2 separate regions of the Homo sapiens genome follow, and region 2 is linked to region 1. The links come from fine-mapping of genetic effects on gene expression. Tissue or cell type: spleen. Region 1 holds a variant in brackets; the other region holds the start of a gene. All regions are shown on one strand. Distances are between the middles of the regions.

Region 1 (8,106 bases):
TGCTGGCGCCTTGATCTTGGACTTCCTAGCCTCCAGAACTGTGAACAATAAATATCTATTGTTTATTAATTACCCAGTCTAAGGTATTTTGTTATAGCAGCCCAAATGAACTAAGACAAGAGTGAAAGAGTATTAGGTTGGCAAACAAAGCATAATTTCTTTGTCGTTATTTTTTTAAAGGAAAAAAATGTGGGGTGGAAACAATAAATTAATATTAAAATTGGTAAGCTAATTGTGATCAATCCATTCAGGAAAAAAATAGAAAGGGAACCATGAAAGGTGGTAATGCTCACTGAGCCTAAGGGTAAAAAACAAACTAGATGTAATTCAGCAACATGAGACAGTAGAGAAGCACTTACTATTTTAAGCTACCACACTGAAGTCTCATGTCGCTGACTGAGCAGGCCAAAAAAGATTCAAGAGTGTTTCTGTCTTGATTCATTAGTTTGTAGCTCCAAAACAGATAGCTTTTCAATTTATTATATTAATTTTGAGCAGTCAGGGTACTCTTGTCCTCAGAGAACACATAACCCAGAAAAGTTTCATAGTGAAGATGCTAATAGAAGCTGTCTGTACCTTGAGGAATCTCTAATGTTCTTAATCAGGAATGTGACCACATAAGTGTTGTGCTTTGGGAGAGACAATCTTTGGAAAGCTGATCTAGCCACACAGATGACCCAGATCTTATGAATCCCCATAAAAGATTCCAGACCACTGCTCAATATAACAATTTCCCGATAGTGGTCTCATTATGGTTAGCAACTCCATATATATTGCATCTCTGGTGATAAAAGAGGAGATCTAGAAAATTGTGGGGGCATTTTTGGTTGCCACAATAATTGGAAGGGGAGTGCTATTGGCATTTAGTGGGCAGGACCAGGAATCTGGACATTTTGAAAGTGTCTCAACAAAAAACTGTGTTGCAGCTGGTACAATTTTCAAATGTCCCAATAAAAGTTCCCATGGGTGAAAAACCTATCTACAATTATCTGAGTTTAGAACCTAATTCCACTTTACAAATTAGCAAAAAGTAGTTTTGTAGTTTTAATACAAAACAATAGTTTTTCCAGGAATGTAACAGCTATGTAAATGAAGAGAAAACTCATACTTTTTGTTGTTCTTATTGTTTAGAAGATTACAAAAAGTTGTTTACTATTTCAGAAAATCATGGCAATGCTGCTCTGATGCTCTGGAATCAATAACACATTTATTTCTGTCTTCAAATAATACTATTTCAAATAATACTGTGAAATAGTACAAATATCTGATTGTTCTACTATAGTTGTCCTCAAGTATTTACATATTGAAATACACATTATTTTAAGTATTGTACTTTTTTTATTCCTCCTTCATATTTCAGTTAAGATTTTATATTGATTTATTTTTAAAGATTATATGTACCTGGACATGTTATATCTGAATTTCATTTCAGGATAGTTCAGGGACACTGCAAAAAAAAAGTTTTTTAATAAAAAGGGGACATTAAAACTGATGAGAGTAAGGTAGGAATCACTGGTGTAAGCAAATCATGGTAATTCCACGCCCCTCGGTAGGACTGGTGGAGCACAGATACATGATCCAGTTCTGCCCAATGAGACACGATGGAGTATCCTGGAGGGACTTCTCTTGAGTGAGGAAGAAATGGTCCCTCTTCCTTTTCATGTCAGTTTGTGATGACTAGAATAGTTGTAAGCATCTTGCTATCAGCTTTAGGGTGAAGTAAGCATACTGAGGAGGCAGCTCCAAGAGAATCAGAGAGGTGAAGCTGGAGCCCTGAGATCCTGCATCTGAAGTCTGCCTTCCCTTTGGACTTTCTGCTATGTACTGTGATAAATTCCTTTATGTGACATAACTTTTATTACAGTCTGTTGTTGTAATTGCTCTCTTTTATTTTGAGTTACTGTTGTTCATTTCTTACTGTGCTGAATTTATAGCTGTCTCTCAGTATCCTCAGGGGATTTATTCCAGCACTCCCATGGATACCAAAATCTGAGGATGCTCATGTCCCTTATATAAAATGATGCAGTGTTTGCATATAATCTGTGCACATCCTTCTGTATATTTTAAAGCATCTCTAGGTTATTTATAGTACCCAATACAGTGTAAATGCTATGTAAATAGTTGTTATATTTCTTGTTATTTTGTATTGTTGTATTATTTTATTTTCTGAATATTTTTGATCTGCAGTTGGTCAAATCCTCAGGAAGCAGAACTGGTGGACATGCAGGGCCAATTGCATAAATTAAACTTGATTATAGGTATATATGTATAGGAAAAAACATAGTATATATAGGGTTCAGTACTGTCTGAAGTTTCAGGTGTCCACTAGGGGTCTTGAAACTTATCCCCCACAGACAAGGCAGGGGGACTACTGTATATTGAAGTTAAAATCTTGACTCTGTGATTTCTAGCTGTATAACCTTAAACAAATATCTTAAGCCCTCTGAGCCTCAGCTTCTTCGTTTATAAAATGGAAACAAGAATACCTGCTTTATATGGCCATTATAAGGATTAATAAGCTAATACTTGTTAAGCTCTTAACTCGGTGCTTGGCATGTTGTAAGCTTTCAGTAGCTCGTGGCTATTATTAACTATTGTAATTAAAAGGAGAAAAGAAAAGAACTCACAGCAGTCTGAGCAGTGATGTGTGTGCAACCCACGATTTTGGCTCCAGCCAAAGGCTTTTCTCCTTGAGCTCTCTTCCTCAAAGCCATCAATGCAGGCATTTCTGAAAAGGCCCAATAAATACAGCAATATTAAAGAAGAAGGAATAAGAGATAAAAGAACAAACAGAAAAACTTGTTTTCTTAAGTTAAGATCCTTCCCCTGATCAGGTTAGATTAGGTTTCTCCAGGGATCAAGACATTAAACCTGTATTTTCCTTTATAAAGGGCTTTTGGAGGCAAATGCTCCAGGGTTCTGATTCTCTATATTCCAGTCCTTATCCAGTCTCTCTCCCTTTTTTTTTTTTTTTTTTAATACAGGGTTCCTTCTAGACTTGCCAGATTTCCCCAGTGTTTCTTGAACTCACATTTCTTTTGTTATAAGTATTCTTATCACATAGAAATTTCACAAGCTACCAGACCCCAGACATAAAAAGGGATTAATA[T/C]GGACAAAAAGACACAGGTAGGTTAAGAAGGAAAAGGTGCTTGTTTTCTTTACCTTGTTCAGCAATTTCAATTTCTCTTCGTCCAAACTCTGCCTGTTTGATGTTCTTAACACAGAAGTCACTGCTTCCCTTAGAGTTCTTTTGCTGCTTGTCCCTGGGCGATGTCTCATCATCAGAGCTATCTGTATATGAAGCCGCTGGAATGACAGAATAAAAAACACTCGGAAAAAAAAAAATGCTTCCTCTAAAATTCCAAACCATGGAGCAAACTGAAGCTTCTCTAGCCACCTAGCACCATATAAATTTTTTTACCTCTGTTAAGTACCTGCAGGCTATACACATGCCAGAAGAGGGAAGCTGAAAGAGATTGCCAAAGACATTCTTCCTGGATAGCCTTAACTTGAAATGTAGGGCTAACTTTATCTTCAGAACACGCAGAGGTCCTTGAATACGCAAAAAGAAAAGGTTACACCATGGTAGCATTAGGTTAAAGTTCCTAATGCAAGATCGTGGTCATTAACATATGGGTTTTTGGGATTCTAACTACTCTGCTCTGTGTGCTGCTTAAATGTTTGATATAATTTGTGTTTTAGTACAATTACTGAACAGATAAGACCTAGAAAACAAGGAATCCATGGGAAAGTAATTAAGAACCACACAAAAAGTATTTGTCTGACCTAACAGAGCTTTCTTTTTTAAGACGGACTCTGATGAGGCTGAATTGTGCCTGCAGACCCAATTAGACATTGACAATGAAGTATTCAATGTGCTCTCCCTTCTTGCTGGCCTCAGTAGGTCTGGCGTTAGGCATTTTAGACTCCCAAAGAAGTGAATAAATCCTCCTTTGGTACAATAAAATGCTCTGATAACTAATCCATTTAGCAACATATACTAGAGTGTGAAAGGCCTAAAACTTTTTATCGTGGTTAACAGGCAGCTGCTGCTACTACTATTCACATGCTTAGCTGGGGTCTTTTTAGTCTTCATAGGATTCTGTAGTTACTAACCATTTGCTAGATTATTTGAAGCAGTGTCCTTCCCTGATTTGTGTTTGAGCTTCTGAAGATAGTTCTTAACCCCCAAGTTTTTTGGGGGGTTAAGAAACACTCTCTAGAAAACGCTTTGTATCTCTCAATGGAATAAGTACTGCCATCACTTTTAAGGGTAGAAAACTGTGAAAGCTCAGAGTGCCTACGGTCTACGATGCTCTGATCTACTTATATGCAGAGAATTAAGGCATTTCTGAGATTTCTTAGCAAAGGGTCTACCTCTGCGAGGGCTGTAAAAGGCAAGTCTGACCTTGCCCAGTTAATCAGGCATGGCACTACAAACCATTTGGGCAGCAGGGGCTTCAGAATCTCTTTTGGAGCTGGAGCAAAGTCCTAACACGAGGCAACAGGAATGAACATGGGCACCAGGGGAGGTGAGGGAATTAGTAAATCCCCAAAGAGACTTTTGTTCTTGAAAGGAGCTAATCTGTACAAAAAGTTTGTGGTTCCCTCTCCTAGGGTGAGTGAAAGCTCAAAGTACTTTTGGCAACAGAACCCAGACACAGCTTTCTGGGAAGTCATCTGTTTTACTAATCAATATTCAGAAATACCTAATAAATCAGAGGCTTAGGGGAACCATGCTTCTACCACCTGAGAGATAAAAAGATAACAGCCATCTCTAATCCCGATCCAGATTTATGGAAAATTACTTTTGAAGAAAGTGTTCATATTCAGAATATCCTGAAATCTCAAATTCTTTTTCAGAGTCATGATGATTTTTATGCTTCCCAATGGCCATTTAAATATAGCGGTCATGTGTTCTGGAGTCAGTCTTTGGTTTAAGTCTCAGTCTCTGTTTTTGGGTGTATAAAGTGGAGCTGATCCGTTTGAAAGAGTTGTTAATTTATTCACGTATTCAGTCATTCACACACTCAGGTGTTTATTCAAATTTTAGTTATGCATCTATTATGTACTAGGCATAGCCTAGGTGCTGGAAATACAGGACAGATATAGATGGTCCTTATCTTCATGGAGTTTTCAGTCTAGTCAGTGAGTCAAAAAAGAAATAACTAGTTACAAAATTAATTATTTAGAGCTTTAAAAAATACATCTGTAATGTGTGCTATAAAGCAGAAATCAGGATGTCATAAGACTATATAATAGGAGAACATGACTTGTCAGAGTCAAGTTGTTAAGCAGATTAAGTAAGATAATGTATGTAAAGTGTTTACTGCAATGCTTGGCATACAGTAATTAAGCACTCAATAAATGATACCTGATATTACCCACTTTAGCACATATTTTAAATTCAGTTCCAGATATAACATCTTTAAGGGTTCTTACTCAGCTTTAAGATTTTGAATGGGAAAAGAATGATATACATACATAATCATTTAGCAGTTTATCTTTTTTTATACCTCCATCATCTCCTACTAATCTACCCAAACAGCAGGTGGTTGGCTGGCAGTGATTTGAGAGGTTGAGACTGGAGTCCTAACTCTACCCAGAAGAGATTGCCCTTCCTATGCCTCTTTAGTTTCTAAGAATGAGTCAGAAGAAAACCAAAAAGCAAAACAAAATTTGAAAATTTCCCCTTAAGAGAAGCATTCCAATTTCTGGCTTTACCATTTCCCCACACCAACTCAAAGAAAAAAATCTTTACACCACTTCTCTATTCTAAAACCTGGAAAAAACAGTGTTTTACTTTCTTAACAGGAGTCAAGTAGTTACAGTTAATTCAACCAATGTTTTTCTTTGAGCCAAAATGTATTTGTTTTCAAAGATCCCTTTTTTTTTTTTTGAGCCAGGGTCTTACTCTGTCACCTAGGCTGGAGCACAGTAGCACGATCTCAGCTCACTGCAACCTCCGCCTCCTGGGTTCAAGCAATTATCCTGCCTCAGCCTCCTTAGTAGCTGGGATTACAGGAGCCCACCACGGTGCCTGGCTAATTTTTGCCTTTTTAGTAGAGACGGGGTTTCGCCATGCTGGGCAGGCTGGTCTTGAACTCCTGACCTCAGGTGATCCGCCCACCTTGACCTCCCAAAGTGCTGGGATTACAGGCTTGAGCCACCATGCCCGGCCTCAAAGAGCCCTTTATACGGACCTGCTATCAGGTAAGAACCAAAAATATCAGTTGTCTAGATTGTACTACTATGTGGATACGACATGGCTGACAGATCCAGACCAAGAGAATATATTATTAGTTCTGCAAACACAGTGGAAAGGTTATTGCTGAATTATAAATGAATGAATTATAAATAAATGAATAAATAAATTTACTCATTTATTCTTTGAATCCGTACTCATTTCTGCCACAGAGTAACAAACTCATGATGACAGTTGAGATAGTATTAAGGACTGTTCCTAGGAAAATTTAGAGAAACCCAACACGTATGTACAAACACACTTGAACAGAGTTTCTAAAATATTTGTAATTGTCAGCATACTCTAAAGCCCAGAGTCATAATTTAAATAAACAAGAACAACCAATAACCTACTAAAGTAGTCCTGAGATCCTAGATCTAGCTTCAACCCTAAGTGGTTAAGTGACCAATTTTCAATTTATCCAACTGTAAACTGTAACAGATTCCCTCTTTCCTCATGCTCTCTCTTTCCCCCAACTACCACCGGAAAAATCTTACGAATAAATGAGATGATAACCAAAAGGGTTCAGTTTCTACGTAGAAAAGTAGTATGAAGTACAATATAACTTTACTATGGGATGTTATCTTGTTTCATTATTTTCCAAAATCAAAAGACAGCATGATGAATCAAGAATCCACAATCTATCTCACAGAACATGTATACACATTTTATGATTCAAGCCTGATTAAGCTTTACCTCTCAGCAGCTGTGATACTGTGAGTTACTGCTAGGAGAAGCAGCAGTCAGAACCCTGACTGAATTAGTCCTATTAGACTATTTTATGTCAGGCAATTCCTCTTGGGCCTAACCTATTCATTTGGTAATGGAAATAACAGTAGGGACCTGTGTGTCGGGTTATAGCAGACTTCACTGATGAGTAACACTCTGGAAATGTGTAAAAAGCTATGCTAGCATCCCAAATACAAACACAAAATTTTGTTGTTTGGAAAAATCTGAAAATATCTCAAACTTTATAAGAATTGTAGAGTTTGGGAACAAAAAGAACCAATCGTGAAGAAGGGACTTCTGTCTTCTTTCCTCATCCTTAACCAAGTAACTCATTGCAAAGACAGCTTATTCAGAAATATATCACTGAGAACGGTCTGATTAAAAAAGAAGTCTCTTCTGTTCATTTGTTTTTATGAGGTTTTTTTCCTTAGGGGAAGAGTTTTTTAGAAGTTTGCTTCTTATAAAATAGTTTCGTGGATTAATGCAGCGTTTTTCAACCTGGGTTCTGCTAGAAATTAAGTCCTAATGCCTTGAAGCATCCATTGTACATAATGAATTAACTTCTCTCCTACGCATCTGGAAAGTACTAGTTATGTATCATCTTTTGGAAAATTAAGAAAAGTCTATAAAATCATTTTCTGTGTTCTGTGATTCAGATGAGGATCCCTGGTTGAGAAAAGCTGGCAGAGGTTCCTAAATGAAAGCATGGCAAAACTTAGTACTAGGAGCCTTAGGAAGGGAGACGAGGCTAGAGCCTATGTAAGCCTCTGAGTATCTTCAGCAAAACAAGCACTTTGGACAGGAAAGTATCTTTTTTTGAAATCTCATAAACCTGCTTTTGTTGTTCATACACACTGAGTATATTAGGGACCTCAACAAGGGTATAAAAGTATAACGTCTCTGAACACCTTTCACCAATATTTATTTATTGAGTACCTCTTCTGTGTCAAACACAGTTCTAAGTGCTGGGAATAGAGCAATGTAAAACAGAAAAAAAAAAAATCTCTGTTCTCATGGATCCTGCATTTAAATAGAAAGGAAAAGACCAAAACATATTAGCAACATATTAGCAACATAATATATATGATATATATTATCATATATATGATATATTAGCAAAACATATTAGCAAC
Region 2 (8,106 bases), 160 kb after region 1:
TAAGAAAACTGATGATATGTGAATGAAGTAAGGAAAACCATCTATGGAAATGTGACTTAAAATAAATGTTTATACATGAAAGTTAAAAAACAAATGCAACAGTCACCAGTTCCACAGCCAAAGGCAGCTATTTCAATACTAGTATTCTCAGTTCCTTCATATGCTATAAGAAAAACAGTAAGGAGTCAAGGTCAAAGTGGTTATTTACATAGACAATCTAAGAATCAACAAAGGCTCAACAAATCAAAATGTCACACTGCAGTTCCTTGGTGAGATGACTTTCAACTTAGGGAAAGGGCAGTCTTGGGCACTTATTTTGATTTAGCCAATTCAATATCAAGAAGGTTAAAGATTGGGCACCTGAAAAGCAGCTCAGCAATGCCCTGAATTTCGTCATCCAGCTGTATCCTTGCCCAGAGCTTCACCTGCTTAACTTTCAGCAGAGAAGTTGTTTTTTTGGTGCAATTAACATTGTAAGGCAAGCTCAGCCCTGCTTTACAATAGCCTTGAGGCTGCTGAGTATATCTACAATCATGGAACATACATTTGGTGCTGAAAAAACAGGAAGATGGTTCAACGACAAGGAAAGTGGTCAAGAAGCACATCTAGAATTAAGAAAAACAGACTCCAGTATGCTGGTCTTTGATTTTTTAACTTTTTTTTTTTTTTTTTTTTTTTTGAGACAAGGTCTCACTCCAGCACCCAGGCTAGAGTGCTCATTGCAGCCTCAACTTCCTGGGCTCAGGTGATCCTCCCACCCCGGCCTCCTGAGTAGCTGGGACTATAGGCACACACCACCATGCCCGGCTCTTTTTTTTTTTTTTTTTTTTGGAGAGAGAGGTTTTCACCATGTTGCCCGGACTGTTCTCAAACTCCTGGACTCGAGCAATCCACCAGCCGTGGTTTCCCAAAGTGCTGGGATTACAGACGTGAGCCATGATTTTTTAATTTCTTTATATAGAATATATTGAACTGTGTGTAACTTTCAGAGGTGGTCATGGGGGCTTGCACTTAAGCCATGATGGGAGGAATAAAATAAAATCAATTATTCATAATAATAAAAGCATTAGTAAGAATATCATTTAAGACTTTATGTGCCAAGCTCAATGCTAAACCTTTTACAAATATTTCTAATCCTCAATCATAATTAGTACTTTCATTTTATAGAAGAGGAAACTGATTTGTGTAATTTGGAAATTACCCAAAAGGTAGTAATGGGGGTACTAGGCTTCAAATCCAGGTCTGCCTGACTGTAAACTTCATGCTCTAAAAGCAATTTGTTAAACACTTTTAGCCTAAAGAAATCTAACCAAATTACAAAGTTTAGACAAAAACAGTCTTTATCACAAGAAAATGACTTAACGATACAAAGTATCTCAACAAGTCAGAAGTATGCTTTGGATTTCCAGACTCAGATCTAGGTACTCCCAGCACTGGTGCTGCTGCTGCCTCTCTTTTTTACTTTACTTTTTTTCTTTAAACCCATTTCTGCAGGATGCTGCCTCTTTCTACTCTAATTCTTCCCAGAGGAGTTTCATACTACAAACGACAAAGACATTGTCTAAAGCATTACAGAAATTCCTTCAGTCTTGCCTCTGACTTATCACCTAAATTTGTATCGTTAGGATGAAAGGATTATCCGCTATACCTTAATCATGACGCTATGACAACAAAAAGTTATGGTGGATCCAAGGTTCCAATTCAGCTGGTCCCACACAGTAAAACCAATGCACACTTCCCGTCTCTTTGTTGCTGTTCTGATAAAGCAATTAAAAACCATTCACAACAATTTAAAAAAAACATTAATCCCTGTGCCCATACTGTGTCTACGAAATTGAAGCTGTAAGCCCTTTTTATATGATCCACACTTCTGTCTTTTCCAATACTTGCCCTGTTTTTCTGTGCTGATTCAGCTTTAAGAGAGAAAGAAAGACAAGCTTTGAGAGAGACAGACAACTATGGATAGACAATGTACGGGTAATACAGGGCTATCATCCACCTAGGCAGTTACTTCTTGGTATTCTGAGACCTCCTCAAAACTGTCTGAAAGAAGCTGACGCCTAAGACCGAAAACCCCACAAAGATCGTCTTTCCCAAAAGTAGCAGCATTTCTTCCTATCACTTTCAGATTATAATAAAGCAATCAATAAGACATTCATTCTCTTCATACACAGCCTAATAATCCTGGTGACCAACTATACCCAGCAGGGAGGACAAAGCTCTTAACACGAAAGAGTGAGGAGAATCTCTCCATTACCCTTTTACATATTCAGGGAAGAGAGAATATCGCAGTCGCTGGAAATGAAGGGCACAGCATCGTGTTGCTGTATGGCCACGGTTGGCCACAGAAAGGCAGAAAGTCATCAACTGTATGGAAACCAGACAACTCTGACGATTTCTATGCAAGGTGACTACACCTTACTCGTTCTCCAAGTATTAAAGATCTTTTCATCCTTATTGCTGTGTGAACTCCCGTGAGCGGTAAGGTTTTTCTATACTATCGAGGTCTCTTCCCCGATAGGCTGGAAAATCACACCCGGGAGCGTGTTGGGGCCGCGGGACGTACTATTAGGTGTCTCTCCTCCCGCTGCCTATTCCAAGTAGTAGGGGAGAGCGCTACCTCCATGTTATTCAGAGCGAAGTACGGCCGTGCCTCCTGGAGTCTCCGCTCCCAGCACGAGGGGCCGGCTGGGGGGCATCTCTGAGAGAGTGGGTTTAAGGGGACAAGGGGTATCTCCGGTCCTGCGATCAGAAAGGAGGGCGTGGAGGGTGGTGCCGCCGTGCCGAGAGGATCTGCAGTTCCCCTCCCCTCCCTTCCTCTCCTAGAGAGGCAGCCCGGCCCCAGTACCTTCTTGACTGTGCGCGGCGCCTCGGTGACGGTGCCGTCGGGGCTGACCAGGGCCTCGCCGCCGTCGCGGTGCCGCTGGTGCTGGTGATGTGGGTCGCTCCGCTTCATGGCCGACGCCTGAGGCACCTTCCCGGCGGCGGGGCTGAGAGCGGCGGCGGGCCCCGAGCCCGGGCCGGGGACCGGGGGCCGCTCCGCGGCGGGAGCTGGAGCCTCAGGGTCTCCACCGCCCGCCGGGGGGGCCATGGCGCCCACGGCGGCCGTGCTCAGTCCTAGTTGCGACTCCGCCTCGGAGGGGCTCAGGTCCTTCAGCTCCACCTCAGGCACCTTGGCGGCAGCCGCGGCTGACACAACCTGCACCGACATCACCGCCTCCGCTGCAACCACCGGCTCAGACTCCAGCTCCTGCTCTTGGTCGGCCCCGCCTCCCACCTCCCTTCCTCTTCCCTCCCCCATGTCCCCACTCCTCCCCTCCATCGCCTCCTCTCCCACCCCCTTTCTCCGCCCGCCAGTCCCGGCCCCTCCAGCCCCGCCCCGCCCCGTCCCGGTCTGGCCTCGCGCGAGGCGCCACGGAACCTGTAGTGCGTTTGCTCCCGGCCGCACGCGGCGAGAAGACCGTGGGACCTCAGGCCCCGACCTACACTGCGCGCCCCATGGGCGGGGCCCGCAGCGTCCCCTGGGAGTTGTAGTCCTTTCAGCCTTTCCTCCACTAAGTGAGATTCAGCCGAGGAGAGGGAGCGCTAGGGCCGGCAGCTAACAGAAAGGAGTGAGGATAGGTGACTCGACGGAGGGGATGAGGAAGAGAAAGTCTCCAGAGGAGTTGTGACTTCCGGGGAGGGAACGCCAAGAAGCCTTAGGGGAGGGGAAGTGGTAGAGGAATGGCTCGTTGTCCTGACAGCGTGAAGTTCCTCCGCGCGTGCCCGTCTGCGATCACGTGAGCGAGTATTTAAAGGAGAAGCGGCGGCTCCAGGCTGGAAGTGGCTTTATTTTTCTTTGTGATATTGAGAACTCAACACCCTTCCAAACTTCAGTGGCTTTGTTTTTAGAAGGGATAAAGTAGGACCTTGCTTGCTGTGGCGCTTTCTGTCACATTCTGGGTTTGGAAGCTAAGATCATTCCTCAAAGAAGTTAGGTATCACTAGATCAAAATTCAAGGCTGAGGAATTACACGTTGCCTTAAACGAGGCCAAATCTTTTCACCTATAATTCTAATAGGGCAATCATCTGAAATTCAGATACATATATCAGCATAGAGGGATATGAATAGTGAATATGAGTAGTTAATTTCCTAAGTGATGGGATTTAAGGTGATTTTTACTTTGTACTTTTCTGTATTATTTTTAAATTTTACATTTAGAGGATGTAAGCAAAAAGACATGCACCGCAGCGTCCTTTTTAATAACAAAAAACTGTCTAAAACTAATGTCCAACAAATAGAGCAATTGTTACAGCCTTTGAAAATCGTTTGCCAGCTGGGCATAGTGGTTGACGTCTGTAATCCCAGCACTTTGGGAGGCCAAGGCCGGCAGATCACTTGAGATCAGGACTTCAAGACCAGCCTGGCCAACATGGTGAAACCCCATCTCTACTAAAAATACAAAAATTAGCCAGGCGTGGTGGCGGGCACCTGAAATCCCAGCTACTTGGGAGGCTGAGGCAGGAGGATCGCTTGAACCTGGGAGGCAGAGGCTGCAGTGAGCCAAGATCATGCCACGGCACTCCAGCCTGGACAACGGAGTGAGATGCCGTCCCAGAAAAAAAGGAAGAAAGAAAGAAAATTGTTTGCCAATACTTTTTAACAACAAGGTTTTCCCTTTTTCATTCTTTACTCTGAAAGCCAAAATGTGAAGAGGAAGCTAAGAAACTCTTGTGTCTGGTACACTTGTGAGCTCTGTGGAAATGGCAGTGCTCAGACGCCTTCCGATACATAGTGTGAGGCACAAATTTGGCGATCAGGAAATGAGAGACTCCAAGGCAGGACAACTTCACGAAGTGAAGATTTCCAAAATCGTAATAGCACAGGAAAGAAGATCAAGGCATTCTGGCTTTCAGAATAAATGCTTATGATAAAAACATTAAGCTAAGAAGCAAGAGACAAAATTGCACATGCCATAAGATTTTATGTAAAGAATACTTTAAAAAGCCTGTAATCCCAGCACTTTGGGAGGCCGAGGCAGGCAGATCACGAGGTGAGGAGATCGAGACCATCCTGACTAACACGGTGAAACCCCGTCTCTACTAAAAATACAAAAATAAGCCGGGCGTGGTGGCGGGCGCCTGTAGTCCCAGCTACTCGGGAGGCTGAGGCAGGAGAATGGCGTGAACCCAGGAGGCAGAGCTTGCAGTGAGCAGAGATCGCCCCACTGCACTCCAGCCTGGGCGACGGAGCAAGACTCCGTCTCGTAAAAAAAAAAAAAAAAAAAAGAATACTTTAAAAAAACAAAATGCAGTTGACTCGCGACAGATTATGGGGGGGGTTCCTCTCTATGCTCAGAGAAACAGGAGCAAAGGGGTTCATACAGTTTACAGCTGTTTCAGAGACTTACAGCCCTAACAACCCAGGCAGCCACTGGACAGCTACTCTTTAGACATCTAGTCTTTGGTGTCACTGTGTTTTGCCTGGCAAGGAGAAGGAAGGAGGCCAGGCATGGTGGCTCACACCTGTAATCCCAACACTTTGGGAGGCCGAGGCGGGTGGATCACTTGAGGTCAGCAGTTCGAGACCAGCCTGGCCAACGTGGTGAAACCCCATCTCTAATAAAAATACAAAAATTAGCCAGGCGTGGTGGCTTCTGCCTGTAGTTCCAGCTACTCAGGAGGCTGAGGCAGGAGAATCCTTTGAACGCAGGAGGTGGAGGTTGCAGTGAGCCGAGATTGCACCACTACACTCCAGCCTGGGCAACAGAGCAAGACTCTGTCTCAAAAAAAAAGAAGGAGAAGGGAGAGAAATCACCTGCCTCGATCTTCTTTCCTGTCCTACTATTTTGGAAATCTGTTCACTCTGTGTGGTTGTCCTGCCTTGAATGGAGGCTCTCATTTCCTGATCTCCAAATTTGTGCCTCACAGTACATGTCGGAAGGCATCTGAGCACTGCCATTTCCACAGAGCTCACAAGACACAAGAGATTCTTAAGTTTTTTCTTCACATTCCGGCTTTCAGAATTTCCTTCCTGTTAAAAAGAAACCAGCCCAGAGCTTCATCCTCCAGCTGTCGGAGCAGAGATTAGCAGCTCTGTAACTGATTTCATTCTTCCCCCTAATGCTCAAGGGAGCTACGGTACAGCCACCTGGCATGTGTTGGAGCTCATAGGCAGCAGCTGCCTACCTGCCACTAGAATTGATTACTGAGAGGATGAATTAATTCTTCAGTGTGATGTGGTTATAAAATATAAGGAGTTAGAGCACTGGAATGAAACTGATACCCTGTTTTATTCCAGTCACCACCACTGATTGGGGCCAACCATCAGGACACATTCTTCAACCTGTTGTCAACTCCATCCCTACATACCTGCTGCTTCTGCCATCCTTGTAGCTGAGGGACACCAGGTACAGTTGAAGATCAAATTACATACTAGAAACAGGGTAATTAAGCACCAGTTTATGAACTATTTAATGAAATATTTGGACTACAGGTCTTCTTCCTTCACCCGGCTCATTCAGCTTCCAGAACGCTGGCAAGCAGGAATGTAACGTCCATGCAGGACATTGGTATAAAAAAGAATTTCTTTTTTTCTTTTTCTTTTTTTTTTTTTGAGATGGAGTCTCGTGCCATCGCCCAGACTAGAGTGCAGTGGCATGATCTCGGCTCACTGCAACCTCTGCCTCCTGGGTTCAAGCAATTCTCCTGCCTCAGCCTCCCGAGTAGCTGGGACTACAGGCACGTGTCACCACACCCGGATAATTTTTTGTATTTTTAGTAGAGACGGGGTTTCACCATGTTAGCCAGGATGGTCTCAATCTCCTGACCTCGTGATCTGCCCGCCTTGGCCTCCCAAACTGCTGGGATTACAAGCCTGAGCCACCGCGCCCGGCCAATAAAGAAGAATTTCTTGGCCAGGCACGGTGGCTCACACCTGAAATCCCAGCACTTGGGAGGCCAAGGCGGGCAAATCACGAGGTCAGGAGTTTGAGACCAGCCTGACTAACATGGTGAAATCCCGTCTCTACTAAAATACACAAATTAGCTGGGTGTGGTGGCACACGCCTGTAGTCCCAGCAACTCGGGAGGCTGAGGCAGGAGAATTGCTTGAACTTGGGAGGCAGAGACTGCAGTGAGCTGAGATTGCGCCACGGCACTCCAGCCTGGGCAACAGAGCAAGACTGTGTCTCAAAAAAAAAAAAAAAAAAAAAGAAGAATTTCTCTGAGGTATCTGACCAATCCAAGAGAGAAAACAAAGATACTAACATTGAGAGTTTCCAAAGGAAATAAGCCAGCCAGATCACCCGCCCTGAAGACCATACTCATGTTCACAGAGCTTCCGTGAACAATTTAGTGTCACATTCTTAAGTATGAACAGACAACCAAAGTCACCAGACATATGAAGAAAACTTTGGTTTTTTGTTTCGAGACAGAGTCTCACTCTTGCTGCCCAGGCCAGAGTGCAGTGGCATAATCATAGCTAACTGCAACCTCTGCCTCCTGGGCTCAAGCAATCCTCCCACCTCAGCCTCCCAAGTAACTGGAACTACAGGTTTGCACCACTACACCTGGCTAATTAAAAAAAAATGTTTTTGGTAGAGTAGGGCTCTTGCTATGTTGCCCAGGCTGGTCTCGAACTTCTAGTTGTTTTTTTTTTTTTGGAGACGGAGTCTCGCTCTTGTTGCCTAGGCTGGCGTGCAGTGGCGCAATCTCGGCTCACTGCAACCTCCGCCTCCCAGGTTCAAGCAATTCTCCTGCCTCAGCCTCCCGAGTAGCTGGGACTAAAGGCACCCACCACCATGCCGAGCTAATTTTTCATATTTTAGTAGAGACGGGGTTTTACCATGTTACCCAGGCTGGTCTCAAACTTCTGAGCTCAGGCCATCTGCCTGCCTTGGCCTCCCAAAGTGCTAGAGTTACAGGCATGAGCCACCGTGCCCAGCCTGTTTTTTTGTGGTTTTTTGTTTTTTGTTTTTTTTTAGATGGAGTCTCACACAGTTGCCCAGGCTGGAGTGCAATGGCAGGATCTCGGCTCACTGCAACCTCCGCCTCCCAGGCTCAAGCGATTCTCCTCCCTCAGCCTCCCGAGTAGCTGGGATTACAGGCACGCATTACCACATCCA

Which allele goes with the higher level. Positions count from the first base shown, and alleles are read on the strand shown. Sizes are in standard deviations (SD) of each study's normalised expression.
As copies of C replace T in region 1, the expression in spleen of the gene that starts at base 3,258 in region 2 goes down (small effect, 0.30 SD a copy in GTEx).

What was found. PIP is the estimated chance that this variant, and not a neighbour inherited with it, causes the effect.
Region 2: AHCYL2 starts here. The variant in region 1 is fine-mapped to the expression of AHCYL2 in spleen (GTEx, PIP 0.95).

The regions. Positions count from the first base shown.
Region 1 is chr7:129,384,256-129,392,361 of GRCh38, reverse strand. AHCYL2 (adenosylhomocysteinase like 2) reads right to left here. Exons shown (of 17, transcript NM_015328.4): 3 at 3,163-3,306; 4 at 2,628-2,728. Among named protein-coding and RNA genes, the nearest start is that of STRIP2, 46 kb to the left of the region's middle. The variant T/C (reference allele first, on the strand shown) is at 3,110.
Region 2 is chr7:129,220,182-129,228,287 of GRCh38, reverse strand. It overlaps AHCYL2 (adenosylhomocysteinase like 2), which reads right to left and starts at 3,258. Exons shown (of 17, transcript NM_015328.4): 1 at 2,849-3,258. The coding sequence starts at 3,211. RefSeq lists silencers at 2,925-3,174, 3,295-3,364, 5,986-6,280 and an enhancer at 3,645-3,754.